7 separate regions of the Homo sapiens genome follow, and all the other regions are linked to region 6. The links come from fine-mapping of genetic effects on gene expression. A gene starts in region 6. Each other region holds a variant in brackets. All regions are shown on one strand. Distances are between the middles of the regions.

Evidence for each region. PIP is the estimated chance that this variant, and not a neighbour inherited with it, causes the effect.
Region 1: its variant is the best candidate, but not a certain one, in a credible set for the expression of CCT6B in whole blood (INTERVAL, PIP 0.90).
Region 2: its variant is the best candidate, but not a certain one, in a credible set for the expression of CCT6B in whole blood (TOPMed, PIP 0.86).
Region 3: its variant is the best candidate, but not a certain one, in a credible set for the expression of CCT6B in vagina (GTEx, PIP 0.71).
Region 4: its variant is the best candidate, but not a certain one, in a credible set for the expression of CCT6B in prefrontal cortex (GTEx, PIP 0.69).
Region 5: its variant is the best candidate, but not a certain one, in a credible set for the expression of CCT6B in blood mononuclear cells (TOPMed, PIP 0.67).
Region 7: its variant is the best candidate, but not a certain one, in a credible set for the expression of CCT6B in left ventricle (GTEx, PIP 0.66).

The regions. Positions count from the first base shown.
Region 1 is chr17:34,841,580-34,845,579 of GRCh38, reverse strand. All of the region lies in intron 2 of LOC105371742 (a long non-coding RNA gene), which reads left to right. Among named protein-coding and RNA genes, the nearest start is that of CCT6B, 120 kb to the left of the region's middle. The variant G/A (reference allele first, on the strand shown) is at 2,116.
Region 2 is chr17:34,926,433-34,930,432 of GRCh38, reverse strand. CCT6B (chaperonin containing TCP1 subunit 6B) reads left to right here. Exons shown (of 14, transcript NM_006584.4): 13 at 1,399-1,471; 14 at 2,316-2,572. The coding sequence ends at 2,385. Among named protein-coding and RNA genes, the nearest start is that of CCT6B, 33 kb to the left of the region's middle. The variant G/T (reference allele first, on the strand shown) is at 2,384.
Region 3 is chr17:34,912,240-34,916,239 of GRCh38, reverse strand. The region is part of intron 2 of LOC105371742 (a long non-coding RNA gene); the gene reads left to right. Among named protein-coding and RNA genes, the nearest start is that of CCT6B, 47 kb to the left of the region's middle. RefSeq lists an enhancer at 2,591-2,650. The variant G/A (reference allele first, on the strand shown) is at 1,624.
Region 4 is chr17:34,876,025-34,880,024 of GRCh38, reverse strand. All of the region lies in intron 2 of LOC105371742 (a long non-coding RNA gene), which reads left to right. Among named protein-coding and RNA genes, the nearest start is that of CCT6B, 83 kb to the left of the region's middle. The variant G/A (reference allele first, on the strand shown) is at 2,001.
Region 5 is chr17:34,797,730-34,801,729 of GRCh38, reverse strand. The region is part of intron 3 of LOC105371742 (a long non-coding RNA gene); the gene reads left to right. Among named protein-coding and RNA genes, the nearest start is that of CCT6B, 160 kb to the left of the region's middle. RefSeq lists an enhancer at 2,524-3,223 and a silencer at 3,733-3,933. The variant C/G (reference allele first, on the strand shown) is at 2,386.
Region 6 is chr17:34,959,346-34,963,345 of GRCh38, reverse strand. It overlaps CCT6B (chaperonin containing TCP1 subunit 6B), which reads left to right and starts at 1,886. Exons shown (of 14, transcript NM_006584.4): 1 at 1,886-2,089; 2 at 3,696-3,759. The coding sequence starts at 1,953. It overlaps ZNF830 (zinc finger protein 830), which reads right to left and starts at 1,806. Exons shown (of 1, transcript NM_052857.4): 1 at 1-1,806. The coding sequence starts at 1,779. The coding sequence ends at 661. RefSeq lists enhancers at 1,513-1,762, 1,843-1,922, 1,973-2,192, 2,293-2,342 and a silencer at 2,062-2,356.
Region 7 is chr17:34,932,830-34,936,829 of GRCh38, reverse strand. All of the region lies in intron 10 of CCT6B (chaperonin containing TCP1 subunit 6B), which reads left to right. Among named protein-coding and RNA genes, the nearest start is that of CCT6B, 27 kb to the left of the region's middle. The variant C/T (reference allele first, on the strand shown) is at 2,361.

The sequences.
Region 1 (4,000 bases), 120 kb after region 6:
ATTAGGATGCTAATGGAGGGAGGGGAGTGAGGAAGCCAGGGAGCTGCAGAGCCAGAGAAACACCCGGGGACTGGGGAGCCAGTGGCTAATTAAAGGCTCCATGTCAAAGAGGAATGCCAAGTAGGTAATTTCCATGCATTTGAATAATGGGGAAAATGGTTACCATTTCTCAAGTTTGCTTGTTGAAAAGAGAGAGGGGAAGAATGAAAGGAGAGGGGAGACTGTGGCTGCAGGGATCTCCACTTGCTGTTGAGGAAGCTGGGAAGGGGCAGAAGCAGACTTGCTCCAAGAACAGGGAGGGAGGGAGAACCGGAGGAGGCAATTTTCTGCCTTCTTCCCAGAAGGTCCTAGGAAGTTCCCTGAAACCTGGGCTAGGGGAGAGAGCAGCCATGCAGAGTGCAGTGATGCTAGGTCCCAGGAGAGTTAAGGAAAGCCCCCCTCATGGGTGCACCACACTTCACAGTTTACATAGCTCACGTACCTTCTTTGTCTCACTGCATTGCTATGACAGGCTGTGAGGTGAGCAGGGAAGGGATGGTGATCATGATGATGTTGATGATGATTCTGATTTTAGAGGTGAATCACTGAGCCCCAGAGAGCAGGAGTGAATTGCTCAAGGCCCCATTTGCTTATGTATTCATTCATTCATTTAACAAAGTTCTTTACTGGGAATGCCAGACTGAATATCAGGTCCAGTGCCATGTGAGAAAGGCCCAAGGATGATAAAGGCCCAAGGTTGATGAAGACCCAAGGATGAGTAAGACACGGTCCCTCCTGTCAGGAACTCGGATTCCACAGGGAGAGACGCAGGAGGTGAAGCCATACATCGCCAAGTGCTGTGGGTGCTGAGGTGGAGGGACCTAGCCTACCTGGGGCCATAGGGACTTCCTGGAGGGACTGCCTGCAAGCTGAGGTTTCAATCAGGAATTTGCCAAGTGACAGGGGAGGAGCACATGCCAGGCTGAGGGAATAACATATGTAGAGCTGGGGAGAGCCAGGAGGGCTTGTCTTGTTCAGGGAATATGAGAGGCCCATTGAAGAAGACAGGAGGGGTCATGGGCTGGGGCAGGGTTGAGGGCTGGGGCTGGAATCCTTGGTGGGAGAGGGATGAGACCACAGAGGCAGGCCCCAGACAGGCTATGGGTGAGCCTCGTGTGCTATACTAGGATGTATGGACTTGATCTTCAGGCCACAGGACCTAGAAGGTGGCTGAGGAGGAGCTAGTGGAATGGAGATCACCCCATGTCCAGGGCTGCTGCTGTCTCTCTGGAGCCGGCCATAAGAACCCAGCCTCCCACCCCACTTCTCCTGCCCCCAACCTCCCCATCCCAGTCCCTTGAGCTTCTTGAAGTCATGGACTCCCAAGAAGAGGAAGCCAAGCTGTGGGAAGGAGGGTCCCTACTGCTCTGGCCTATTCTCCCTTTTTATTTTCTGTGTTTCTGATGCTTTGTGGTCTGGGGCCTGGCTGACCTTGGAGAGACTGCCTCTCCCATTGCCAGCCAATTCCTAGAGGGTGCATTTCCTATGCAAACCAACTCATAGAGAGTCCCTACCCCAACCACCTTCTTTATCATGCTCTTATGCTGATATTCCTCTGCCCTAATCACCCCAACTAGAGATGGCCCCTACATCTCAGAACTCGCTGAAATAATGCAAACCAGCCAATCCTGAGCCTGCTTACCCTGCCTCACCCACCCTTCCTGTAAAGACCACAATAAAGGCATTTGCCCATGTTTTCATCTTGCTCCCTCTGCCTGCCGAACAGCCCTGGCTTCCCATGTGGCCCCTGCATGGCTTGGCATACCCCCTCCCCTTGGGAACGGTAACAAACCATCTTTTCAATGGTAGCCACTCCTAATCTGTTAGCCTCACCACACCTGAAAAATAATGAAATGCACATTTTAAAACACCACCTTGCATCAGTTGCCTATTGATGCATAACAGATTACCCCAGAACTAAGTGGCTTAAAAAACAACAAATACTTATTGTCTCTCATAGTTTCTTTGGGTTAGAAATTTGGGAACAGCCTAGCTTGGGGTTTCTTCTGAAGTTACAGTCAAGATGCTGGCCCAGGGCTGCAGTTGTCTGAGGGCTTGATTTAGGCTGGAGAATCT[G/A]CCCTAAGATATTCATTCCATTGCAAGATGGCTCACTCAATGCCTGGCAAGGTGGTGCTATGGTCAGAAGACCTCAGTCCTTCACCACTTGGACCTCTCTACAGCTGCTTGAGTGTCCTCACAACATGGCGGCTGGCTTTCCCGAGCCAGTAAGAGAGAACAAGGTGGAAGTGCAATGATCTGGCCTTGGATGTCACCCACTGTCATTTTGCGATAACCCCTTGGTTACACATTGTGGGAGAGAACCACACAAGGGCATGAATATCAGGAGATGAGGATCAGCCAGGCTGTCTTGGAGGCTGGACACCACACCCCTCCTTCCAAGGAAGAGCAGACAGAAGTCCTCCTCACCTCCCGTAGCAGGACGGTGAGATAAAGTTGTCTCCTTGGAGAAGGAGGGCAGGGCTTCCTAGGTCACTGGGACAGGGCAGGTCTCAAATGGCTGTGCCACTAACCGGCTGTGTGCCCATGCTCTTCAGGCCTCTGTTTGCCATCTCTGTGCTGTGGGAAGAACTTGTTCTGCTCTGTGGGGCTAGGAGAGGGATGGAGGATCCAGTTTCTAAGGGGGTGGTCCTGAGAATTGCAGAACATAGAGTCTTCCCCCTTTTCATTCTTAATCTTGTTTCTTCACATAGTCAGATAATCAGTTTCCCTGGAAGTCTTTGCAGCAATAAATTTGCATAACCACCCAAATAAGCACCATTCTTTCCTTTAAGTTAACCTTGGCCTATATTTCCAATTAACTGTGCAATTAAACCAGGGTGAGGCTTTGCTTTCTTACCCCCATGACCATGTCTTTCCTGGATGGCTTGGAGCAGAGGCAGAGGCCTATATCAGCTCTGCTCACCTCCCCAACATTACCCCACACACTGCGTGGCCAATGCCCGGGGGTCAGTCTGGGCCAGCTCTCTTCTCTCCTTTTCAGCTTCCCTTGGTGGTGAGGGACTCAGGATGTTGGAGCAAAGAAGGACCTTAGGACCATCTCATGTAATCCTTACATTTTACAGATAAGGCTCAGAGAGGGCCAGCAAGGGGTCAAGGTCACACAGCAAGTTGGTGGCAGTAATACTGGGGCGAGAACCAGGTCTTCTGACTCCCCTGCAGGGCTCTTTTGTTCTCCCTGTTGGGTATGCCCAGGAGATGCCCAACTGTGGTTGTTCTAGATGGGTCTTGGGCCACTGTGACTTAGACACTCCCGTCTCCCGGCAAAAGGCAGGGTGGGTGCCAGGGTGTCAGGAGGGAGAGTGGAGAGGAAGGGAAGCTGTCAGTGTGGAATGGCCAGACCCCACACTTACCTGGTGGAGTGTGTGTATACGGAAGAGAGGAAGGTTAGGGGAGGGGGCATACATAAGAGAAGAGAAAACGTGGACCCAACCCTCTAAGCCTATTGTGCTCAGGGGAGGAATGACAGAGCAGGAAGTGCTCAGAAAGCTAGTGCAGAATGACCCAGCCTCCGTGGGCCTGGAGGCCTGAGAGACCCTTGAAGTTTGGCTGCAATCGGAGTAGTGCATGTGAAGAGGAGGGTGAGCTCCCAGCCCCCAGCCTCACTCTGCAGGACACAGAAACAGGCCACCCCAGGAAGGGACGAGGAGGCATGGAGCTACTGATTGGACCCTCAGCTTCTTCTCCCACCTTGCTAGGGATGGCCCTTGTGCTCACAGCAGGGTGGGAGGACCCTCCTTCTCTCTGGCCTGGGCCGATGATCAGCTGTATAGCCCTTGGTCAGTGAGGCCCAGGGAGGCTCTGATATCCTGCAGGGTGGCCTCCTCCACTCCTCTTCTAGGCTCTTCCACTGCCTACACTGCCCCATGGGGTGGCAGGAGTGAGCCCACTCCTGGCCAGTTTCACTTAGTAATTTCTAAGTCTTCAATTTTGGCCATTCCTC
Region 2 (4,000 bases), 33 kb after region 6:
AAGCCAGTGTCTGATGTTTCTGAGGAAGGAGGTGAGAGAGGTGACAGAAGGTCAGATCATGCAGGGGCATTTGGACCAGTCTCAGGACTTTGGCTTTTACTTTAGAGGAGCAGGGAGCAATTTTGAGCAGAGGTGTGACATGGCCTAATTAATTAATTTATGAGACAGTCTCGTTCTATCACCCATGCTGTGGAGTGCAGTGGCACGATCTTGGCTCACTGCAACCTCTGCCTCCCAGGTTCAAGCAATTCTCCTGCCTCAGCCTCCGGAGTAGCTGGGAATATAGGTGTCTGCTGCCACGCCCGGCTAATTTTTGTATTTTTAGTAGAGACAGGGTTTCACCATGTTGGCCAGGCATGTGGCCTAATTATGTTTAAGAGAATCACTCTGGCCACTCTCCACTTTGTAGAGAAGTCAACTGAACAAGTAGAAGGTTGGAGTTGCAATCAACTGTGGTGGAGAATACTGGCTGGAGCAGGTTGTGGGTGAGAGGACATCAGCATTCAGTTTTGGCAGAGTCAAAGTTGAAGCATCTGTAATCTTTTAATTAAAAAAGTTGGATATATGGGTCTGGAGTTCAAGGAAGAGGTCTGGGTTGGAGATTAAAACCTGAGAGTCAGGCCAGGCGCAGTGGCTCACGCCTGTAATCCCAGCACTCTGGGAGGCCAAGGTAGGTGAATCACTAAAGGTCAAGGGTTCAAGACCAGCCTGGCCAACATGGTGAAACCCCATCTCTACTAAAAATGCAAAAATTAGCCGGGGATGGTGGCAGGCCCCTATAATCCCAGCTACTTGGGAGGCTGAGTCAGGAGAATTGCTTGAACCCAGGAGGTGGAGGTTGCAGGGAGCCGAGATGGCACCACTGCACTCCAGCCTGAGTGACAGAGCAAGATCTCTGTCTCAAAAACAAAAACAAAAAACACCAAAAAAAAAAAAAAAAAGAAAGAAAACAAAAAACAAAAACACCCAAAAAACCTTGAGAGTCATCAGATGTGTATGGTTTAAATCTAAAAGTCTGGATGAGATCACCTAGGGATTAAGGGTAGAGAGAAAAGAGGCTGGGACTGAACTTTTGGGTACTCCAACGTTAAGAGGTCAGGGAGGAAGAGGAAGAAGCAGCAAAGTAATCAGAAAAGGAGCCACTAATGCAAAAGAAAGAAAACCAGAAGAGTGTGGTATCCTGGAAGATAACATAGAGTAGGCGGCAGAATGTGATCAACTGTGTTAAATACTGGTAGATGAGGTCTGAGAATCAACCATTGGATTTAACAATATGGAGGTCATTGATGACCTTGACAAAAGTAGTTTTGGTAATGTATTAAATATTTTTAGAAGATATCAATTAATATTAATAGCAAATACTAAGATTTTGGTATGAAAATTGTTTTTACTTTTCAGGTGAGCCAATGGTAGCAGCAGATGCAGGAGTTTGGGATAATTATTGTGTAAAAAAACAACTTCTTCACTCTTGGTAAGTTCATATGAACATAAAGTGAAAGACCTGTAGAGTTATAATTGATAATATTAAGATGAAATTTTTTCTATTATTTTTGTCCCTGTACAGTGGAAAAATTGTCAAGTGTATGAAAGGTGTGGTATTCAGTTATTAGAACTAGCTTCTGTCATTTTATAGTCCATAGTCCCTTTTATATTTTAGATCTAGCAGTGTTAAGTTCTAAGAAAAATTAACCTTACTATTTGAGGGGGAAAGAAAAGGGGAAATTTACTGAAATAATAGCACATGCATGATGGAGAAAATCAAATGATATTGTAAAAATAAGCTCAATTTTGCTGAAATATAAATCAGGAATGCACTTTATCAGCAAAGGAGTTTAAATTATAATACAAAGGGTGACATTTGGGCCAGTGCGGTGGCTCACACCCGTAATCCCAGCACTTTGGGAGGCCGAGGCGGGTGAATCACCTAAGGTCAGGAGTTCGAGACCAGCCTGGCAAACATGGTGAAACCCTGTCTCTACTAAAAATACAAAAATTAGCCAGGCGTGTTGGTGGGTGCCTGTTATCCCAGCTACTCGGGAGGCTGAGGCGGGAGAATTGCTTGAACCTGGGAGGCAGAAGTTGCAGTAAGCTGAGGTCTTGCCATTGCACTTCAGCCTGGGCAACAAGAGTGAAACTCCATCTTGGGAAAAAAAAAAAAGGTGACATTTGTATTTGTATTTATAATAGCCTTGTCTCATAAAACATCATACTAACATCATTAAAGAACAAAGTACCCTACATAGGTAAAGATTGCTGGGGAAAAAAGCTAAGAGTGGGTTAGTAGGCTTTACTCACCCTCTCATCTTTTTCCTTAGCACAGTGATTGCCACCAACATTCTCCTGGTTGATGAAATTATGCGAGCTGGGATGTCTTCTCTCAAAT[G/T]ATGATTGAATTCAAAATCAACCCTTCTAGAAGATGAAATTTAGTACACTTTACATCTGACTACTATTGTGTAGCCTGAGCCATTCTGAATTTCTACACAATAAATGCAGTTTATGTCTTTTGGGTCTTAATAGTCTCAAAAATATTTCATCAAGGTATAAAGAACACAATAAATACTTTTACAGTAAAGGAATAATATTTAAATATTTCCCCAAGAGTCCTAACTCCCCACTCTTTGTTATATGCTATTGCAGTTTTTATAGCATAGGATCTTTATGATACTTAGACCTTTTGACAAGTTTTAATTAACAAAATAGAGGTTTTAGTACACCCAAGTAAATTTCCAATTTATCAGAGGGTATAAATATAGTAGGACAGAATGTTTCATTTTCTCTCAAAATTCTTTCAGTGACTTTTTGCTGCCACTCTTTCCTCTTATAAATATGGCGTGTAGCTTTGGGTTGCATTGTTTATAATATCTGACTCAATTTATTTTGTATATCATTTATTATATTTTATCTGGCTGTTTTTGTATGTATGATCAACAATTTATGCCACTGTGCTAGCTCTGGTAGCTCTCTGTCTAGATGGTGAGATAGAACAGGTCTCATCTGGAAAGAGAATTATTGACACCAATGGTGGGAAATAATTATTTTTGGCTTATAATACAACTGTTCAGTATAGATATTATAGCAATATCTTTCTTGTTTGAAACTCTAGAATTAATCTATTATGCTTTTTATTTTTATTAGAGTTCTTGTGGTTAACTTCTTTCCGTGGATGGTAGTTGATAAGAGACTAAAATATGGCAGGTGCATTAATGGAACTTTGGCCTGTTTGTGCATATAGGAGAAGGTTCCTTTAACCCTATAATTTTATAGCCTGTTTTTTCCACTTAATATGCTGTCAGCATCTTTCTAAGGCAGTATCCAGACTTCTTCTTCTTCTTTTTTTTTTTTTTTTTTTTTTTGAGATGGAGTCTCACTCTTCACCCAGGCTGGAGTGCAGTCATGATCTCGGCTCATTGCAACCTTTGCCTCCCAGGCTCAAGTGACTCTCCTGCCTTATCCTCCTTAGTAGCTGAGATTACAGGTGCACACCACCACGCCTGACTAATTTTTGTATTTTTAGTTGAGAAGGGGTTTCACTATGTTGACTAGGCAGATCTCAATCTCCTGACTTTCGGTGATCTGCCTGCCTTGGCCTCCCAAAGTACTCAGGTTACAGGCATGAGCCAGCACACCTGGCCTAGTATTCAGACTTCTGAACCATCACTTATTTATGGTTACATAGCATTGCATTGTATGGTTATACCACAATTTATTTTACTAATTCTGTTTTCAATTTTTTTTTTGCTGTTATAAAGAAAGATCTCCTTTTTAAACTTGTCTTTATTCTATAGGATAGGCCTTTTAAAATGGGCTTACCATGCATATGGCCAGATCTTTTCTGTGTAACATTGTTTAAATTTTGAAATATTTAAAATATACCAAAAAGACAGAAAGTAATATAATAAACACATTTGTACCCTCCACCTAGCTTTAACAAATAGTAACATTTTGCCATATTTGTTTCAGATTTTCTTTTCTTTTCTTTTTCTTTTTTTTTTTTTTTTGA
Region 3 (4,000 bases), 47 kb after region 6:
GTGTGTGCTTTCCTGTTTCCCCCTTTGGCATTCTTTCAATCTCTGCCCCAGAACTGTGACTGATGAGATGTGCAGTTTGGGGGGCCTAATGTTGCCAAAAGGCCACAAGGCCTATAAAGCCATTTTTCCTACAGTTCAGGAAAAATATTTCTGCCTAAGCACTGCGTGACATGAAGTGAGATCCCTTTTCTGTTGCTTTATTATTATCACATTAAACTTTCTAGAGATGCAGGCTTAACCTTACACCCATATGGGGGTAAGCTAAGGGACTATAGTTTGAAGGTACCAAGAATGTCCCGACATTCAAACTTCCTACCTCCTGTGGCTAAAATTCCAACATTAGTATTTCTTTTGGTCTGGGTTTTTGTTTTAAAAGCAAGTATGTAGAAAAGAGTTATAGCAGGCCCAGGTTTTATCCTTTGAAAGGCCTGCTTTCAAGGTTGGTCCTTGGTTGATATCTGGGAATTTGGATTTGGGAGTGTTCTCACTACCCTATGTTCAGACTGTCAGTATTATTTATACTGAATACCTGCTTTCCTTTTGGAAGTCTGGAATTTTGGGTACATTTGGGTATGTAGGCATGTAGTTCCTATATAATCAGCTTCTAAAAAAGATCCTGGACTCTGGGTTTCTAATGTGCTTTCCTGGTTGGCAACATTTTACACATTGTCAATTTGTTGCTGGAAAAATTAAGAACATCTTGCCTGACTCCACGAGAGAGGACCTTGGAAATTTGCACTTAACTTTCCTCTGGACTCATCCCATGTGCCAGATGGGATAATTTGCTGATTTTGCTTTGTATCATTTCTCTGTAATAAACTATGGCCATAAGTATAACTACATGCTGAGTTCTGATCCACTGAACCCAGAAGTGGTCTTGTGGGCTTCTGACACAGCAAGTATTCCTGATATCAAAGAAAAGAACACTACAGAACAATATGTGAACAAAATTCTTTAATGAAATATGAGCAAACTAAATCCAGCATCATATAAAAAAGATTATATAATATGACCAAGTGGGATTTATCCCAGGGATGCAAGGTTGGTTTAATATCCAAAAATCAATTAATATAATATACCAAATTAGTAGAATAAAGGATAAAACTACACAATTATCTCAATATACACACAAAAATTCTTTACAAAATCTATGATAAAAACTCAAACTTAGAATAAAGGAAACTTCCTTAACCTGATAAAAGGCATCTACAAAAAACCTACAGAAAACATCATAGTTCAGGGTGAAAGCCTGAATGCATTCTACCTAAGATCAGGAACAAAGGAAGGCTGCCCACTCTTACTTCTTCAACATAGTACTAGAGGTTTTAGCTAGTGCCATTAGGCAAGAATGGGAAATTATTTTCAGACAACATGATCCAGTGTCTAGAAAATTCTAAGGAATTCATAAATATAAGTATTCCTGAGAAAAGAGCATGTTGTCAAGTTTGCATGAGAGTGAGTTTATAGCATTTTCTATGGGATCCCTGAAAGAGTCTGGCAACTTGGAATTTGGAGGCAGAGGAGATGTTAACTGGGAAATTAAAAATCTCCCTTCTGTCTGGTATATGGTTAACTTACCTACTAGAGTGCATAGGTAAGGTGTAAGACAGTCTGCTCTGATGT[G/A]CATCTCTGAGACAAGAGCAGGGGATGTAAAGGTTTTCAGCTGTTCTAAACTCTACTGTAGTGTTTGTGCCTTCTCATGAGTTAAAGAGAGTGAATTTTCCCAAGGGCTGTTACCAGAAGGATTGGAGGAGTATAGCTTTTGGAACCAGAAAGATTCAAGTTTGAATCACACTTCTTAACTGTTGGATTTTGGGCAACCTGTCAGCCTGTTTCCAAATGGGAATGATGGTAAAGCTACTGTATAAGTCAAGACATGCATTGGGCTGCCTGAAGTTGAGATCAGGAATGATATTAACTTAAGCAACACAGAAGTTCATTTTTCTCGGGGCCGGCATGGTGACTCATGCGTGTAATCCCAGCACTTTGGGAGGCCAAGGTGGGCAGATCCCTTGAGGTCAGGAGTTCGAGACCAGCCTGGCCAACTTGGTGAAACCCTGTCTCTGGGTAATAAAAAATTACCCAGGCATGGTGATGTGTGCCTGTAATCCCTGCTCCTCAGGAGGCTGAGGCACAAGAATTGCTTGAACCTGGGAGGCAGAGGTTGCAGTGAGCTGAGATCATGCCACTGCACTCCAGCCTGGGGTGACCAGAACAAGACTCTTCTCGAAAAAAAAAAAAGGTTATTTTTCTCTCATGTTCAGAGACAGGGAAATCAGGATTTATGTATAGTGGTTTCTCACTATTATTTGAGGCCCAGGCTTCTAATTGTTTTGTTCCACTCTTCCGGGCACATAATTTTCATCCTCAGAGTTGCCTTAATGATCTGCAATGTCTGTTGGACCTTCAGCCATTATAACAGAATAGAAAGGGCCCACCTCAGCAGTCTCACTTCCTTTTTTTTTTTTTTTTTTTGCAGGGGGACAGAATCTTGCTCTGTCACCCAGGCTGGAGTGCAGTGGCGTGATCTTGGCTCACTGAAACCTCCACCTCCTGGGTTCAAAGCAATTCGCCTCAGCCTCCTGAGTACCTGAGATTACAAGTGCACTCCACCACGCCCGGGTAATTTTTGTATTTTTAGAAGAGACAGGGTTTCACCTTGTTGGTCAGGCTGGTCTGGAACTCCTGACCTCAGGTGATCCTGCCCACCTAGGCCTCCCAAAGTGCTGGGATTACAGGCGTAAGCCACCACACCCGGCCTTCACTTCCTTTTAAGAAGCTTTTCTAGAAGTCTCACACAATGACTTCCTCTGACATTTCATTATCCAGAACTTAGCCCTATGGCTACACCTAATTGCAACAGAGGCTTTAAAATGTAGTCTTTAGTTAGGCTCATTGGCAAAAAAACCAGGGTTCTCATGCTGAGAAGGTAGGAAGAAGGACGCCAGACAGGTAAAGCAGCCTCAGCCTCATCTACCCTGCTGAGCTAATGGAAGGGGTCAGTGATGGAATGCAAGAAAAATGCCAAGCACACAGTAGGATCTCATGAATGCTCCCTTGCCCCTACCCACCTCACCCCTGCTCATGTGCTTCAGCCAAGAGTAAGATGACTGTTCCTTATGGGTCTGTGTGTAGGGTGCAAGTGAGAGGGGCACCACCAAGGGATCCTTCCAAGGGCAGTGTCTTTCCCATGTTCAAATACTTTTAGCTCACTGCCTGCCACTAAACAGGTACCTATAAGTGCCTTTTGAATGAATAAAAGAGCATGGGAAGGAGAGACAGACAAACCTTGTATTTGAATCTTGTCTTTGCCATCCCTAGTAAGGTTACTTAACTTCTTGAATCTCAATGTCCTCATCTATAAATTGATGATGATAATACCTACTCTACAGAGTCGTTGAAAGGATCAGATAGAAAGGCACTGTGTCAACTTCCCAAGCACCAAATGGATAGCATCACCATTGAATTTTATGGGGAGAAAATAGGCTGGGCGCAGTGGCTCACCCCTGTATCCCAGCACTTTGGGAGGCTGAGGCAGGTGGATCACCTGAGGTCAGGAGTTTGAGACCAACCTGGCCAACATGGTGAAACCCATCTCTACTAAAAATATAAAAATGAGCCAGATGAGGTGGCGTGCCCCTGTAATCCCAGCTACTTGAGAGGCTTAGGCAGGAGAATCGCTTGAACCTGGGAGGCAGAAGTTGCGGTGAGCTGAGGTGGCACCATTGGCACTCCATCCAGCATAGGCAACACAGTGAGATTCTGTCTCAAAAAAAAAAAAAAAAAAAAAAAAGAAAGAAAGAAAAAGAAAAAAAGGAAAGAAAATAGTATGAAAGGCAACATTTGTCCCCTGAGCCTTCTCACCTACCCCTTGCTCTATCTGCTTCTCTTCAAGCCATCTTTGTCCAGGCTCCTGTCCTGTGCATCCTAATAATTAGGAACACAGACTCTGAAGCCAGCCTACCTGGTTCAAATCCCAGCTCTGCCACTTAACTGGTTG
Region 4 (4,000 bases), 83 kb after region 6:
CATTAAGTCCACCCATTGCTATTCTTCCAAGTGTCAATTCCCTTCCATTTTTGCCTGCTTTTTGTTTCACCAGTGCCTTTAAGTAGCTTTAAAATATCTTTTCCAGAGTTTATAGTTGTTATCTGAGGGAGGACAGATCTGATGGTAGCCATTTGATCATTATTGAAAGCCTTGTTTCATTTTTGAGCAGGTGATTCCTCCAATGGCTCTTACCAGGCAGGGTTTGTTTTAAAGCTACGTCAGGCTTAGCAGAGTCTCTAGGAATCTGGTCTTCAACTCCTAGCAGTAGATACTTATACCATGACAATGATGTGTTGTACCTGGCTCTTGGAAGCGTTTGCAACCATGTGTATGCCAACCTTCTGGGTGGTGTTACCTTCTGTGTTCCCTTTACTATCACCTTCCTTGGGAAGGAGAACTCTAGGCTACAAGGGGCATCCAGCCTCAGGTCCCTCTCCCAGGTGCCCTCTTGCATGGAGTTGGAGGGGTGGGCTTTGTCCCTTCCTAAAGCACACTCTTGGCAAAGTCTTGATTGGGAGAAGAAGAGGTGTCAGAAGGGAGAGAGAGGCAAACTTCCCAACTTGGCAATGTCATCCAAGTGTATGTCTCTTTAAACTCTGCCTTAGGGGGCTTGTCAGATGGCCACCACCTGTTCAGCTTCCCCCAGACACTTCTGGGGCTCCAGATGTGTGCCAAGAGCTGGGAAAAATTGGCTCTTCCACGAAATTCCTTTCCTCTTTCATTGGAGATATCAGAAAGGCTAGAGCATGATGGCAAAATCGCTGTGCTTTTAAAAATGTTCCTGCTTTGTAGAGGCGTTGTTTTCCTCCCCTGTTTCTTCTTTTAAAAATCTCCTGTGTGTCAGAGATGAAGCCAGAAGAGAAATGTCCCTTTGATGGCTGAGAATTATTGTTCTAAAAGCTTTATTTAAGCTGCTCTTAACAAAACTCAAACATCTGGCTTGTGGTGCCTGTGTGCCAGCTTTCAGCTTGAAGGGGAAGGCATAGAGATGGCAAGCTCTGAGGCTTGGGGGAGGAAGGCAGCGCCTGCTATGGCCAGCTCTGCTTCCGAGGCCACTGCCTGCACTGTGCCTCCTTGATGGGGTTCTGTGGCCGGGGGCAGAGGAAGAAAACCACTTTCTTGAGCTTGCCTTTATGATAGAGACATTTTGCTAGAGTAAATGTATCCAAGCCCATCCCTCAGGGCTTAAAATATGAGAGAGAATCAGAACTTGAGCCTAAGAGAAGCTGGGCTGTGCAGAAATGGAAGGAGGGTTGTATTTATCCAACACATATTCTATGCCAGATATTTTTATATCCATTGTCAGGCTCAATTACTGCAACAACTCCATGCAGCAGATATTAATATCCTTTCATTACAGATAAGAAAATTGAGGTTATAACTTGCTCAAGTTTACCTAGTTAGCAGGTAGCAGAGTCAGGACCCAACCTCAAGGCTGCTGCCCCCAGAGCCTGGGTTTCTTCCATTATGTCTGACCTCCTCTCACATGAGCCCTGAAACCTGGATTCTCAGGGCAACATGCTGTCTTCCTCTTCCAAAATGCACAGGGGATCTTTGGTTTGGAGAGGAAAGGGATGGGATCTGATGGCAAATGACTTCTCTGACAATGCAAAGGTAAACATGCACTGCTCCAGGCTGGAATTCTGACCTTGGCAACCAAGAGCTGGGTGATGTTGAGCAAGTTACTTAACTTCCCTGAACCTTAGATTTTTCAGGTGGGGATAAGACCACTCACTGGGGGGATCCCAGCAAGAAATGTGTGTAAAAGCCAATGGTTCTGTGCCCAGCCCAGAAGAGGTGCTTAGCAAGTGTTAGTCTTTCTCTTCCTCCTCTTCTACAGCTAAGAGAGGTTCAGGGCCCAGCCCCAGAACCAGGAGTCTAGATGCACAGACCTGGAGGAAATCGAGGGGGACTAGGCCAGGTACCTTGAGGGGCTCCAGCTGCCTCTGGTTTTTCGAGGTTGGTGTTCAACCCCATGA[G/A]GGGACTGAGTGAGCCTCAATGTGGGGCTGGTCCACGTGTGTCTCTCACCTGGTGGGCCCTGGATCCTGGAGGTCTCCCTTCTGGAGGTCCCTCAGAAACCACTGCATCCACCCTTCACATTTTACAGGCAGGAAGACGGAGGCCAGAATAGGAAAGAGACTTGGCCAAGGCTACATAGCAAATAGGAGGACGAGCTGGAGCTAGGCCTCAGCCTTTTAGCCTCTGAAGCCAGCGCTGGATAGCAGAGAGTGCATGTACTCTCTGTTCCCTGAAGGCACCAGGGCTGTGGTTTCCCCCAGAAACTGTGCCTCTCCTGAGGCCCAGCGGCCCTTACCTGAAGCCAGCAGGGGATGTGAAGAATGCCTGGAGTGACTCCCGCTCCTGCTGATGTGGCTCTGATCTGCCTGCAAGCATCTGTTCACCACTCTCTGATCATTACGTGGGTGGAATCTGCCCATTAGTACTTCACACCCAGGGTCTCAGCATTGCCAGGCAATTAGGATGCCCAAGATCTGAATCACTTGCTGCTGCTTCGGAATGTACTCAGGAAAGCTTTCTCCCTTTTTCTTGAGGCCCAGTGTTTCCAGCTGTGAACTGAAGGCAAGGGACCTGCCTTGGAGGATGACAGTGTTTGGAGAAACACTAAATGATGCTTTGGAGGCCTGAGACATTAAAACAGATAAATATAGGGCATCCCTATCATTTGATCTTTCTTCACATTTCCCTCAACAACTGCTCTTCCCTTTTCCTCCCTTTCTGTTTCCTCCTTTCCTTCCTGTCTCCCTTTCTCCTTTCTGATACTTGTTGAGCATCTGAGAGGCGTGATAGAGGCCTGGGAAGTGGCACTGGGCAGTGGAATCATAGGAGACAGGGCGAGTATGTTTGGAGAGTTTCTTGAGACTCCCAGGAACAGGCGGAGCCACAGGAGAGAATGGAGAGAAACTGCAGAAAAGATAAAGGTGGTCATCAGAGCAGCGCCAAACCTCAGGAGAAGCTGGAAGAAGGACATTTAAGAGGATATTAGGCCTTCAAGGAGCTGAGAATTAAGCTGAGCCTGCAGGGACCCAGCCAGGGACTGGGAATTCTACATCCTTTTCCAAAAAAACAGACACCTAGGTGGCTTTTGGTCCATGTTTACCGCAGGGGACTCATGTAGCAGTGCCTGCTGTAAGCCCTGCTGGCTGAGATCCTCTCTGGAGGTTGTAGGCTCTGAGCCTGGAGCAGAGGACCTGTCTTGTTGACCTTTGGCAGGGGCATTGCTGTGGTCTAGATCCCAAGATAGCCTATGCCAGTGGGGCTGCCCATGGGTTCCTCCAGCATCTGCTCTGCCCTTGGCACCCTGTTCCTGAGGAACTGCTTCTTCCAGAGGAATAGGATATCCTAAAGACAAGGCCTGTGTCATATTCACCTGGGGATCCCCAGACCCTAACCCACCATGACTGATCAAAGGCAAGGCAGAGGCATTGTGGAAGAACAGAAAGAGTAATGGTGTCCGAGTCAATCCCATTTGAATTAGAATCCCAGTTCCGCTGTGTTCAAGCTCTGTGACTGCCATAGGTCAGTTTCTCCTGCAAACAGATTCTGGAGAACTAAATTTGTGTGCAGAAGGTTTACAGGGGTGTGCACTCAGGAAAAATACCTGTAAGGGAGTGAGGGAAGCAGGATGGGGTGGAGGGAGAAGTTGAATCACTCTGCTGCTGTTGCAGCAGAGGCCTCAGCCAACCCCCTGGGGGAGTTCTGGGGCTAGAATAGCACTTGAACATTATCCCAGACTGAGGAAAAGGAGGCTGTACCTTTGTAACTCTTGTAGAACAGTCATTGGAGGTGGGCTTTCCAGGGAAGGGGCATATGCTTGGGTGAGGCAGCTTTTGACTGAAGGCAATGCCTGAAGAGGGACTCAGCTGTGAGCCCTCAGTTGTCAGCAGACCTGGCAGCTGGGAAAGTGAGAGCCTCAGCCCTTAGGGGGAGACCTTGGCAGCATACCACAGTATCCACCACA
Region 5 (4,000 bases), 160 kb after region 6:
AGGGTTGTGGTACTGACCTCCAGGATGTGGTATGCATTGAACCAATGGTTCATGCATGGTGCTGTGTCCCCCGAGAGCTAGAATATACATCTGGGAAACAAGGGTTGGAAGCAAGTTGGGTCCATCTATCATCACTTCCAATAACCTTCAAGAAGAAGATGTGCTTTCTGTCTCCCCAACTCTAGGCTCTGGTGGAGGCCAGGTTCCGGTTCTACAGGGAGACACAGTAGAGTTCTACTGTGACTGACCCTGAGTGATCCCTGGTCACTTTGAATCCTTCATGTCAGTGGACTAGCAAAAAGAAGGTCGGAGTAATTGACCACGATTTTCACAAAGAGCTGGGGTTGCTGCTACCTAACCAGGATGGGGAAGACTCTGTCTGGAACTCAGGGGGTTCACTGGCGCATCTCTTAATGTTTCCATACCTGATGATAATAGTGAATAGGTAATTGCAGCAAAAACAGCCTAATGGGACTGAGGCAACCAGGGGCTCACCCCCCTTACCTGTCTCATGGATGTTGGTCTGGGTACCTCACTGAGCAAGTGACCCAGGCTGGCAGAATCAGGTAGGCTGAGGGTAAAGGAAATATAGAGTAAGTGGTAAAGGGCATGGGGGATGGATATCTCTCAGGACCTGCTGTAGCTGTTGGAACTGTACCCTGACACATTAACCTTCCTGTCTGAAGAACGTTTTAGAAAATAGAGATTAAGGCCTGCCTTTTCTTGAAAATTCAGCAACAAGGTGAACTTATTTTGGGTCACAGGCAGATCTGAGCTCTACAAGGGGTGGACTGTAGCAGACACTTTGTGTGCCCCACACCACATTCCCTTCATTGATCTGATTTCAGTGCAACTGTGGTAGACAATTCTGGGCATGCTGCCAGCATCTTATCCCAAGCATGCAAAGTGGTATCTCTCTGCTTTTCAGACTCAGGGCTTTCTCAGAAGTCTGAGAAGGCTGCTCAGCCTGTACAAGCATAATGAAAGTGCAGGGAAATGAATACCACTGGGGCTAACCCTCAAACAATGGGGACAGGAGTCAGAGGATAATGTCCTATCCTCCTTCCTTAAGGGATAATTCTGTGGCATATTCAATGTGGTTATGCAGAGGGTCTGGAGTTTTCTACAGAAGTAACTCACTTAATCTATCTTTACTGATTTCTCTTTTTCCCTGTCTCACTCCCCATTTGACTCCCTCCCTCTGGTTTCTTGGGATTATCTCCCAAGTAAATTATCTGCCCCGAAGCCCTTGTTTCAGGCTCCTTTTTAAAGGGGAACCCAAACTAAGATACTTGTTTTCTTCTTTGAGCTTATATAATTCCTATTCAGATCTTCTTCTATGCCTCTTCCTCCCGAATTCTTCCCTGACCACTGGGCCTGGGAGAGAGACCCCTCTTTATTATGACTGTGCTCCCAGTGCCTAGTAGGGTGACAGGTGAATAAAATTCTCTCTGAAAATATTTGTTGAACAAATAGCTTTCCCAGTGGACTCTTCCCAGCAAGAGAGGAGTCACGGATGACAATTGTAAGTGTTGCCACCCTCCGACATGATGCCGCAATACCCGAATACGCCAATGCCAGCTCCCTGTGTGGGGACAGAAGTCCATTATCTGGTCTTATCAGACTCTAATACACCTCAGCGAGGGGCCTTGGTAACTAGGCTGGATAAGTGCTGCACAGACACCATCTCCCTCCCTCGTCTTCCTCTGCTCCCCCTCCCCGCCACATTAAGTGAGTAAGTAATGAGAATGGCTAGAAATTGAATTTTATGAAAAAGTAATCTGCGGCTTAGAGAACAAGCAGGAGGAAGGGGGAGAGATTTGATGAGATGGGGGAGATGATTTCAGGGCCATCAGGGAGAATGAAGGAACATGGGAGCCGACAGGAGAGTCAGGTAGGAGAGTCATTCAATTAGGGAAGCTGAGACGGTGGGGGGACTTGGTCCCCTTCTTCTGCTCTGTCCTTTTTTACCTCTATCCTTTTCATCTCATCTATGGGTATTTTGTCTTCATGCTCATGGGGTGGAGAGGAGGGAGACCAAGACAGAGATGGCAGCAGCAGGGAGCAGAAGACGTTCTGACCACGGAATACATTACTCTGCCTGCAGTTCAGAGAACACTGATGACTGGAATGAACAAGGAAGGAAGGCATGGGGCTGGAGGAGGTGCAGGGATAGATGAAGACACAGAGTGCTAGCATGGCCGCCACCTACCCCATCCCTCTCCACTAGTCCTGGGCCAGCCACAATGGGTGAGCCCTGCTGTTGGGCAAGTTGTGGTCAAAGTAGAGAGCAAGCGAGGCTAAATACTTGTTACAGGGAGGAGAGCATGTTTGTTGTGCATCCTATGATGTGTGAAGCCCTCCCTGAGTGTGTGTATGAATGAT[C/G]TTGTTATATACTGACAGCAACTTTGCAAGCATTCCCATTTGCAGGATGAGTAAAGTGAAGCCCATAGAGATTAGAAGAATTCCCAGGGACTCTCAGCTGGTGAGATAATCAGTCCACTCATAGAAGGCTGAGAGCTGCCTAGGATGTACCATGGGAATTGTGCCAAAGCCTGTACTGACCAATGTCCATGCTTGTGATCAGAAGATGGTCAATTCAGGGATTGATTGTGGGCAAGGCAGACCTGTGCCCTGGTGTATTCTTTTCTCACAGTCAGCCAGTCTTCATCACAAACCTCATCTTCCTCCCCAACAGTCCTCCTACCATTGTGTTTTCTCACAAACACTGTGTTCCCCCTCCTTGGACTACAAGCCTTCTGCTCACCCTCCACCCACCCCACTGCCATTTGCAAACAGCTAAGTGGAACTCAGCTTGAGCTTGATGCTTGGTGATGATGAGTTTCCCAGCAGGGGAAGGGTTTGCTTTGCAGAAACAAAAGACCAAAGCAGTAACATTAAATCTTCCTTCTTGTCCACACTCAGAGCTGCTGAGGAGGCCCAGACAGACTCTCTGGGAAAGCAGCAATGGGGTAGAGCCAGAGCAAACAGAAACCCCAGGGGGTTAAATGCCATCAATAGCAATGCCCAAGCAGGGCTGATGGGATAATGGAAGGGGGTATGTGTGTGGCCATTAACAGGCAGATAAACTAACAGAACCACAGGGGGAAGAAGCCACAGTGAGACTGGGCTTGACTGGAAAACTGAGGAGCTGGATTCTATCCCTGGGTCCATCACCTAATCATAGAATGATTTGATGCTTCAGAATAAAGTCGAATAAAGACTTCCTTTATTGGGGTGGGGGGGTGGGATTAGATTATTTTTAACTCCAGCTAAACTGGAATTTAACTAGCCAATGAAACTCTAAGTTATTCCATGAAAGGGACTATATTTTAGCATAGTTCCTGCATTCAGAAGGGGCTCACTAATTTATTCATCCAACAACTGTGTAACCAGGTCTGATGTTAGGTCCCGGATATAAAATGGTAAATGGAACTGGTCTGAACCCTGCCCCTGGAGTTCCTATTCTAATGCAGAAGGAGACATTAGTAATCACACAAATATCTATATATCATGACAGCCACAATCTGTGCTATGAAGGAATGAGATAGCATCTATGGAGATTTAATTTGAACTGCAGTTTTGATGCAGCCCTCCCTGAGGAAGTGAGGCTGAGGCTGAGATATTCAGAACGAGCAGGAACCCTGTGAAAAGTGGGATAAAACTTCCAGGGGGTGGTATCAGAAGCGCCTGAGATGGGGAAGGGCTTGGCAAGAGTGAGGAATGGACACAAAGCCCACGTGGTGCACAAGGAAAGGCGAGGAGGCTGGGGAGGTAGGTGGGACAGAAGCGGCTGGGCCCGGATAGAGCAGTGAGGATCCTGGGCGATGGGTGGAGCTGTCCTAGGTGCTGATCAGGAGAGCCCACTAAGCCACCAGCCAGACCTTGGGAACTGTGCGAGGGAATCTCAGCCTGGCTGTGGCTTCGAATTAAGTGGGTAATGGGTCCCTCTCCCTCAACCCCACAAACACCACTCTCCCCTTGGCCTTTGTGCAACGTG
Region 6 (4,000 bases):
ATCCCAGATTTATTGAAGGGGAAGGCCTCAGACACTTTAATTATTTTAATGCTTCATAGGTGACTCTCATGTGCAACCACATCTGACCATCATTGGTTTGGTCATGTTTGGCATATAGTTTTCTTATGTTTTTAAAATAAAGCACACTAAGAGAACTGATTAACCTACAATGACTTATGTGTTTATGAAGTGTTCTAAAAAACCATACAAAAACCAAAGAAACAAGAAAACAAACCTTTTCAACTTGATGTAGGGTTCAGAAGATACATACATTCCAAATACCACAGTAAGCATTCATCTGAAAGTTTGCCGGTTGGTCTTTCTATTAATTAAAAAAATTCAAAACAGAATACAGATTTAACTATGTACAATATTTACAACTTACAGATTTTACAACGAAATTATACAGTTAAGTCTGTCGTGGAAATGTTGGCATTTTGGTATATAACACTTCAGAAATTTCAAAAACAACTTTACCTCAAAAACATGTTACACAAATTTTCCAAAGTGCTGTAGCTCACTGGCTCATTTTATCTCAACAATCCAGTTTAGCAATCCAGGTACCCAAATCTTGAGGCATGAAGTAACCGCTATACTACTGAGAGACAGCACTTTTTATACAACAGCAGAGGCTGTTAGAAACCTTGGGTCTTTAAAACCCTATAACAATGCCCCTTTCACCCTCCAATCCTGAGACAACAAATCCTGTAGTTCCCCCTCATCATCGCTGTCAGCATTCTCTTCTTCCTTTTTCTGCAGTTCTTTTATGGTCAGGATTTCTTTAAGTTTATTTTTTATTTCATCCTGGCGATTCCGTAGCTTTTCCACCCGTCGGTAACACTCTATCTGCTCATCGATCTCCCCAATCTGGCGGTCCAACCGTCCCTCCTCATCCTCTTCGGCAACTATGGCTTCGGAAATAGTGTTGACCTGCCTCATGGCTTTTTGGAATTCGTCCCACTCTTTGTCCATCTGATCTTTTGGAGCATCAACCTTTCGTACTCTTGCATCTACCTCAGGGTCGTCAAAAAAACCTTCCGGTAACGCTTCCGCGGTGTTTTCTCTCCTTTCCACCACTTTTTCATGTATTTCTGCTTTCTCAATTGACCCTGAATGAGGAATTATGGGGGCCTTGGGAGGATTAGTACTAAAGAAATCGTTTGGCAGCACACTACTTGTTACCTCCCGTGAAGAGGAAACTGAGTGCTCCTTGCCCTGTGCGTCGGAGAGCGGCTTGCTGGCGTCCCCCCTTTTTCTTTCTCCATCTCCTTCCTCCTCCTCTTCCTCCTCCTCCTCATCTTCATAATCGGGGAGTAAACTGAGTCCTGAAGGCTTACTGGGAGTCGCTCTAATGAACTCCTTTCCTATTTTGTCAAAGTTGGTGGTCCACGCAGATGTGGAGGGCTGTACCTGAGGCACCAAGGTGGCCTTCGCTCTCTTGACATCTTGGTCGTCTGCGTCCGGCGCTTTCCTCTTGACGGAATGAGGCGCTGAACTGGCGGACGAACCCTGGCTGGCTTCCTTCGCGCCTTTCAGCTCGGCCACTTTCTCTCGGTGCTGCTTTCCCAGGACGTGAGTCTGCCACAGGAGCTCGCTCTTAACCGGAGTGTTACACAGGGCACAACTCAGCTGCCCCAAACGGTTGTACTTCGCGAATGGAGATTCTATCCGTTTCCGACTGGTGCTCAGACGCTGCTTCTCCTTCATTAACCGCCGCAATTCTTCCTGATTTATCACTCGCTTCCCTGCCGGAGTCCGGGCGGAGGCGGAGGACGCCATCTTGGCGACCAGACCCAAAACGATTCTGGTTTCCGTCGGGCGAGGCATGATAACGTCACTTCCTGTAAGGGCGATGATTGGCCGAGGCTCAAGAGAGCGTGGCGTCGCATTGCCGTTTTTGCTCAGAATCGCGACTAAGGCTTTTTTTTTTTCTCCCTCTGAACGGTTAGGCTATGGCTGCGATAAAGGCCGTCAACTCCAAGGCTGAGGTGGCGCGGGCCCGGGCAGCTTTGGCTGTCAATATATGCGCCGCCCGAGGGCTGCAGGATGTGCTGCGGACCAACTTGGGTCCTAAAGGCACCATGAAAATGTGAGACAGCGGTTGGAGCGGCCATTACGCGGCTAGGGGCCCGTTGGTGTCCTGTCGCCCTCTGAGGCAGGCGTCCGCGTAGCGCTGTGGATGTTCTTGCGAGCTTGATTTCCCTCATTCTCATCCCTGCTCTGGGGGTATTTCTCGCCTGGTGCAGGTGGAGGAGAAAAGCCTCCCCTAGTAGAGGGCCCCGGGAGTGAAGCTGTGGCGCTTCCCCGACCCCCGACTTGTCGTCAAGGTTCATATGCAGTTAGAAAGTCAGTTAATTTAGTGTCTCATTGGAAACAAAGCATTTAACTCCTCTGCTCCTTAAGACTGTATACCCTTGGTCCATAAATTCAACAAGTAGTTTTGTTTTTTGTATGGCAATGTATTGTAGTGGAGAGGACACAGGCTTTGGAGCCAGGAAGGCATGGGGTCAAATCCAAGTTCTACTTGAATACCCCGTGTCTATGGTTGTTCAGATCTATTCATCTTTTCAGTATATATTAAGCACCCTTTTCTATAGACAAGAGTGAGGAAAAGAGACCAGTGAGGGCAAAAGGGTATAAGAGGAGAGACACATCCTCATAGTAATGAACAAAATAATATTAATGGTAAAATAAGTCACTTAGGTACCAGTTGTTGGGACACAGAAATGATCAAGATAACGGTTTCTGTTCTTAAGGAGATGTGGTAGAGACGGATGTGGTAGAGTAGGATGTGCTAATTATATATAGATGCATATAATTATGCTGAAGAAAGGGACTGATGGCAGAAGGAAAAGCATCTTAAGTAACATGTTTGATCAGTCTTGAAAGAAGAATAAGACTTCACTAGTTGGAAGAGGGAGTAAAGGCCTGGGCAAAGTAATTTCAGGAATAAGAAAGACCAATGGTGCAAATCCAACAGAAACGAAACAAAACATGGTATATTAAGGGAACCAGAAGATTTGCTTGTGGAAAAGTAGATGAGGCAGGGAAGATATTGGGAAAGGTCAAGTATGTCATTGCTGTGTTTGGATTTTAACTTGAAAATGATGGAAAACATAAAAATCATTGGAGGACTTTTGATCAGGGAACTGACTGAATCACGTTGCCTTTTAGAAAGAAAAATGTGTGGAGGGTATATTTAAGTTTGGAGATATCCGGATGCCATCCAAAGTAGAGATGATAACAGTGGAGATGGAGAGAAGGTGGCAGATTCAAGAGATATTTAGGTAGTAGAATTGATAGAACTTGGTGATCTAATAAATGCAGGGATGAGGGAAACTAAGTTGAGTGACTGAATGAATGAAAACATTCACCAAAATTAAAACCTGCAGGAAATTTGCGAATTTGTGCTTTGTAGACTTCCAAGTATTCTTTGACCAAACCACAGTTCGTAACTCATCAAGTGCTTTTATCTTTAAACCTGTAAATAGTCCATTTGGAATGAAATCTCCATAATCTGTCCATCTGGGGAGAAATGATTCTGTGAGCTGCAAATGGTGGTAATTACCATGGCATATTCCCATGGTACAGTGGAAGTTTTCCGAGCCCAGTTCCCTCTATTAAGGATAATGGAGTGGCAAGCACTGGGAATGTCTTCCTACCACATGAAGTTAATATCATTCTTCTCTGAACAGGCTTGTTTCTGGTGCAGGTGACATCAAACTCACCAAAGATGGCAATGTGCTGCTCGATGAGATGGTGAGCTGATGCTGCTGACTTTAATAAACCTTAATAAGCCTTAATTAGAAGCATAGTAGAACTTGTGTATCTTTAAGCCAAGGCTGTGAGCTAAATACTGCAGTCTTGAGATATGCTGAAGACTGTTGAATTAGACCTCAATAAAAAAATTTTTTTGGCCGGGTGTGGTAGCTCACTCCTGTAATCCCAACACTTTGGGAGGCTGAGGTGGCCAAATTGCTTGAGCCCAGGAGTTCAAGAC
Region 7 (4,000 bases), 27 kb after region 6:
GTTGATATTTTAATAATGAGCCTTCTAACTCATGAATATCATCTTATCTATTTGAGTCTTCTTGAATTTATCTCAGCAATATTTCATAGATCTTAGTATATGAGCCTCACATACTTTTTTCCATATTTATCTCTATATATTTTATGTATTTTGTTGCTATTGTATATGCTATTTTTAAAATTTCCATTTCTGATTGTTAGTTGCTAATATATAGAAATATATTTTATTTTTGTACATTGATCTTGAATTCTGCAACCTTGCTAAATCACAATTAGCTTTCTTATAGGCTTCATTGAATTATCTATATAAGTGATTACATTGTCTGCTATACAGTTATACTTTTTGCTCTCCAATATGGATATTTTAAAATTTTCTCCCTTATTTCATGGGCCAGAACCTCCAGTATAATGTTGACTAGAAATAATGAGAATGGACATCCTTTCCTCATCGCTGATCTTAGGGGGAAAGCATTCAATCTTTCTCCATTATGTATGATGTTAGCTATAGGTTTTTATCAGGTTGAGGAAGTTCTCCCTTCTGCACCTAGTTTGCTGACAGTTTTTAATCAAGAATAAATGCCAGGCTGGTCGTGGTGGCTCACACCTGTAATTCCAGCATTTTGGGAGGCTGACGTGCATGGGTCACCTGAGGTCAGGAGTTCAAGACCAGCTTGGCCAACATGGTGAAACTGTCTCTACTAAAAATAAAAAAATTAGCTGGGCATGGTGGCAGGCACCTGCAATCTCAGCTTCTCGTGAGGCTGAGGCAGGAGAATTGCTTGAACCTGGGAGGTGGAGGTTGTAGTGAGCCGAGATCGTGCCACTGGACTTTAGCCTGGGCGACAAGAGTAAAACTTCTTGTTGTTGTTGTTTTTTGTCAAAACACACACACACACACACACACACGAGAATAAATGCCAAATGCTTCTTGTGCATCTATTGAGATGATCATATGATTTTTTTTTTTTTCTTTTGAGATGAAGTCTCACTTCGTTGCCCAGGCTGGAGTGCCATGGCGCAATCCTGGCTCACTGCAACCTCTGCTTCCCAGGTTCAAGCGAATCTCCTACATCAGCCTCCTGAGTAGGTGGGATTACAGGCATGCACCACCATGCCAGGGTAATTTTGGTATGTTTCAGTAGAGATGGAGTTTCACCATGTTGGCCTGGCTGGTCTCGAACTCCTGACCTCAGGTGATCTGCTTGCCTTGGCCTCCCAAAGGTCTGGGATTACAAGCCTGAGCCACTGCACCCAGCCCTCGTTTAGTTTTCTCGTACAGTAAATTACATTGATTGATTCAAATGTCAAACCTTACATTCTTGGGATAAACCATACTTAGTTATAATGCATTTTACTTTTTAAAAAATTAATGGATTACATTTTTTTAAAATTATTTTTTAAATTGTGATAAATATACATAACATAAAATTTACAGTTTAACAATTTTTAAGTGTACAGTTCAGTGTTAGTAAGTGCATTCACAATGTTGTCTAACCATTATCACCACCCATCTCCAGAACTTTTTTTCCTTGCAAAACTGAAACTCTGAACCCATTAAACAATATCTCTCCATTCCCTACCCACCTCCCCAGCCCTGGGTAACCACCATTCTACTTTCTGTCTCTATGAGTTTACTCTATGTATCTCATATAATTGGAATCATACAGTTTTTGTCCTTTGTCTGGCTTATTTCACTTTGCATAGTGTCATCAAGGCTCATTCATGTTGTAGCATGTGCCAGAATTTCCTTCCTTTTTACCATTGAATAATATTCTATTGTATGTATATACCACATTTTATTTGTCTATTATTGGAAACGTGTTGCATTTACCTTTTGGCTATTGTGAATAATGGTACTATGTGTATTCTCCTTTTTATGTATTATTTGATTTAATTGGCTAAAATTTTGTTAAGAATTTTTACATATGTATTCATAAGGGGTATTGGTCTGTGTATATTTTTTCTTGTAATGCTTTTATCTTTTTTGGTGTTAGAACAATGCTGTACTCATAGAGTGAATTGGAAAGTTTTTCTTCTTGTTCAAATTTCTGAAAGTGTAAAGTTGTTGTGGAGAATTGGTATTATTTGTATTATTTCTTTCTTAAATGTTGGTAGACTGTCAATAAAGCCATCTGAGCCTGGAGTTTTCTTTGTGGGAAAGCTTTTAATGACACATTCAATTTTTTTAATAGACGTAGGGCTATAAAGGTTTTGTTTTTTTTGAGTGAGCTTTAGTGGTTTGTAGTCTTTCAAGAATTTGTCCACTTCATCTAAGTTAGGATCATCAACTACTATCTATGAGCTAAATCTGATTTGCTGCCTGTTTTGGTAAATAAAGTTTTGTTGGAATGTGGCCATACT[C/T]ATTTGTCTATATATTGTCTGTGGCTATTTTTGTGTTACAGTGGCAGAGTTGAATAGTTGGAAAAGAAATGGTATGGCCTGAAAAATATTAACTGGCCTTTTGCAGAAAGTTTACTAACTTCTGATCAACAGTTTCAACTTTATTGTCATAAAGTCGATCATAATATTCATTTGTTATTCTTTTTAATATCTGTAGAATCTGTAGTGATATAAATTTTCTCATTTCTGACATTTGTCATTTGACTAATTTCCACTTTCATCCTAATTATTTCCTTTCTTTTGCTTATATTAGGTTTCATTTGTGCTTCCTTTTTTAGTTTTTTTTTTTTTTTTTTCTTTTTGAAACAGAGTCTCGATCTGTCACCTAGGCTGGAGTGCAGTGGCATGGTCACGGCTCACTGCAGCCTTGACTTCCCAGGCTCAGGCAGTCCTCCCACCTTAGCCTCCTAAGTAGCTGGGATTACAGGTGTGTGCCACCAAACCTGGCTAATTGTTGTGTTTTTTGTAGAGATGGGGTCTCACTGTGTTGCCCAGGCTGGTCTTGAATTTCCGGGCTCAAGTGATCTACCTGCCTTGGCCTCCCAAAGTGCTGGGATTATAGGAGCGAGCCACCAGACCCTGTCCTTTTCTAGTTTCTTAAGGTGGAAGCTGGGGTCATTAGTTTGAGAACTTTCTTCGTTCCTAATATAGGTGTTTCGTGATATAAATTTCTCTTTAAGTACTGCTTTAGGGATGCTAAAATTTTGATATGTTGTGTTTTCACAGAGAATGGGATCAGGGAAGTTTTCAAAGGTTCTAGTAATCTCTTTCTTAAGCTGGGTGGTAGGTACATGGATACATTTGTTTATTTGTGCATTTATTCTTTATATCATACATATAAATATTCTTTTGAGTATATTCTGTATTTAACAAGGAACTTTTAAAAAATGTGAATGGGAGGTAATGATGTAATCATCTGGTGGGTAAACAACTCTTTGAGCGGTTATGTTGTGAAGTGAAGCAGTGAAAGGGGGTAGTAATTTTAAAATGATGTGAGATAAAAGGGGAGATTGTTTTCGTATTGTTTTGTTTTAAAGCAAGTTTTCTGATTTAAATAAGAGTCATAAACTTTATGAAACCATACAAGTAGCAGATATAAAAGTGATATCCTGATGTGAAATTTGATGTGTTTAACCAAAACTCTTGCTTTAGAATAATACCACTTAAATTTTTTCTTAGATAGCAGTTTGAGTTCTGCTGCAGTACAAAAAACAAATACTTCATTGAGTTCCAAGAATTCCCTATCAAAAACTAGACAAATGATCTTGGTCTAAAGAATTTTCATGTCAGATATTGTAATCAGTTACCTGTCAATATAAATTATAAATACCTCTTAAAAGTAGTCATAAGGCCGGGTGTGGTGGCTCACACCTGTAATCCCAGCATTTTGGGAGACGGAGGTGGGTGGATCACTTGAAGTCAGGAGTTCAAGACCAGCCTGGCCAACGTGGTGAAACCCCATCTCTATTAAAAATACAAAAATTAGCTGGGTGTGGTGGTGCACGCCTGTAATTCCAGCTACTTAGAAGGCTGAGGTAGGAGGATCACTTGAACCTGGAAGGCAGAGGTTGGAGTGAGTCAAGATCATGCCACTACAGTAC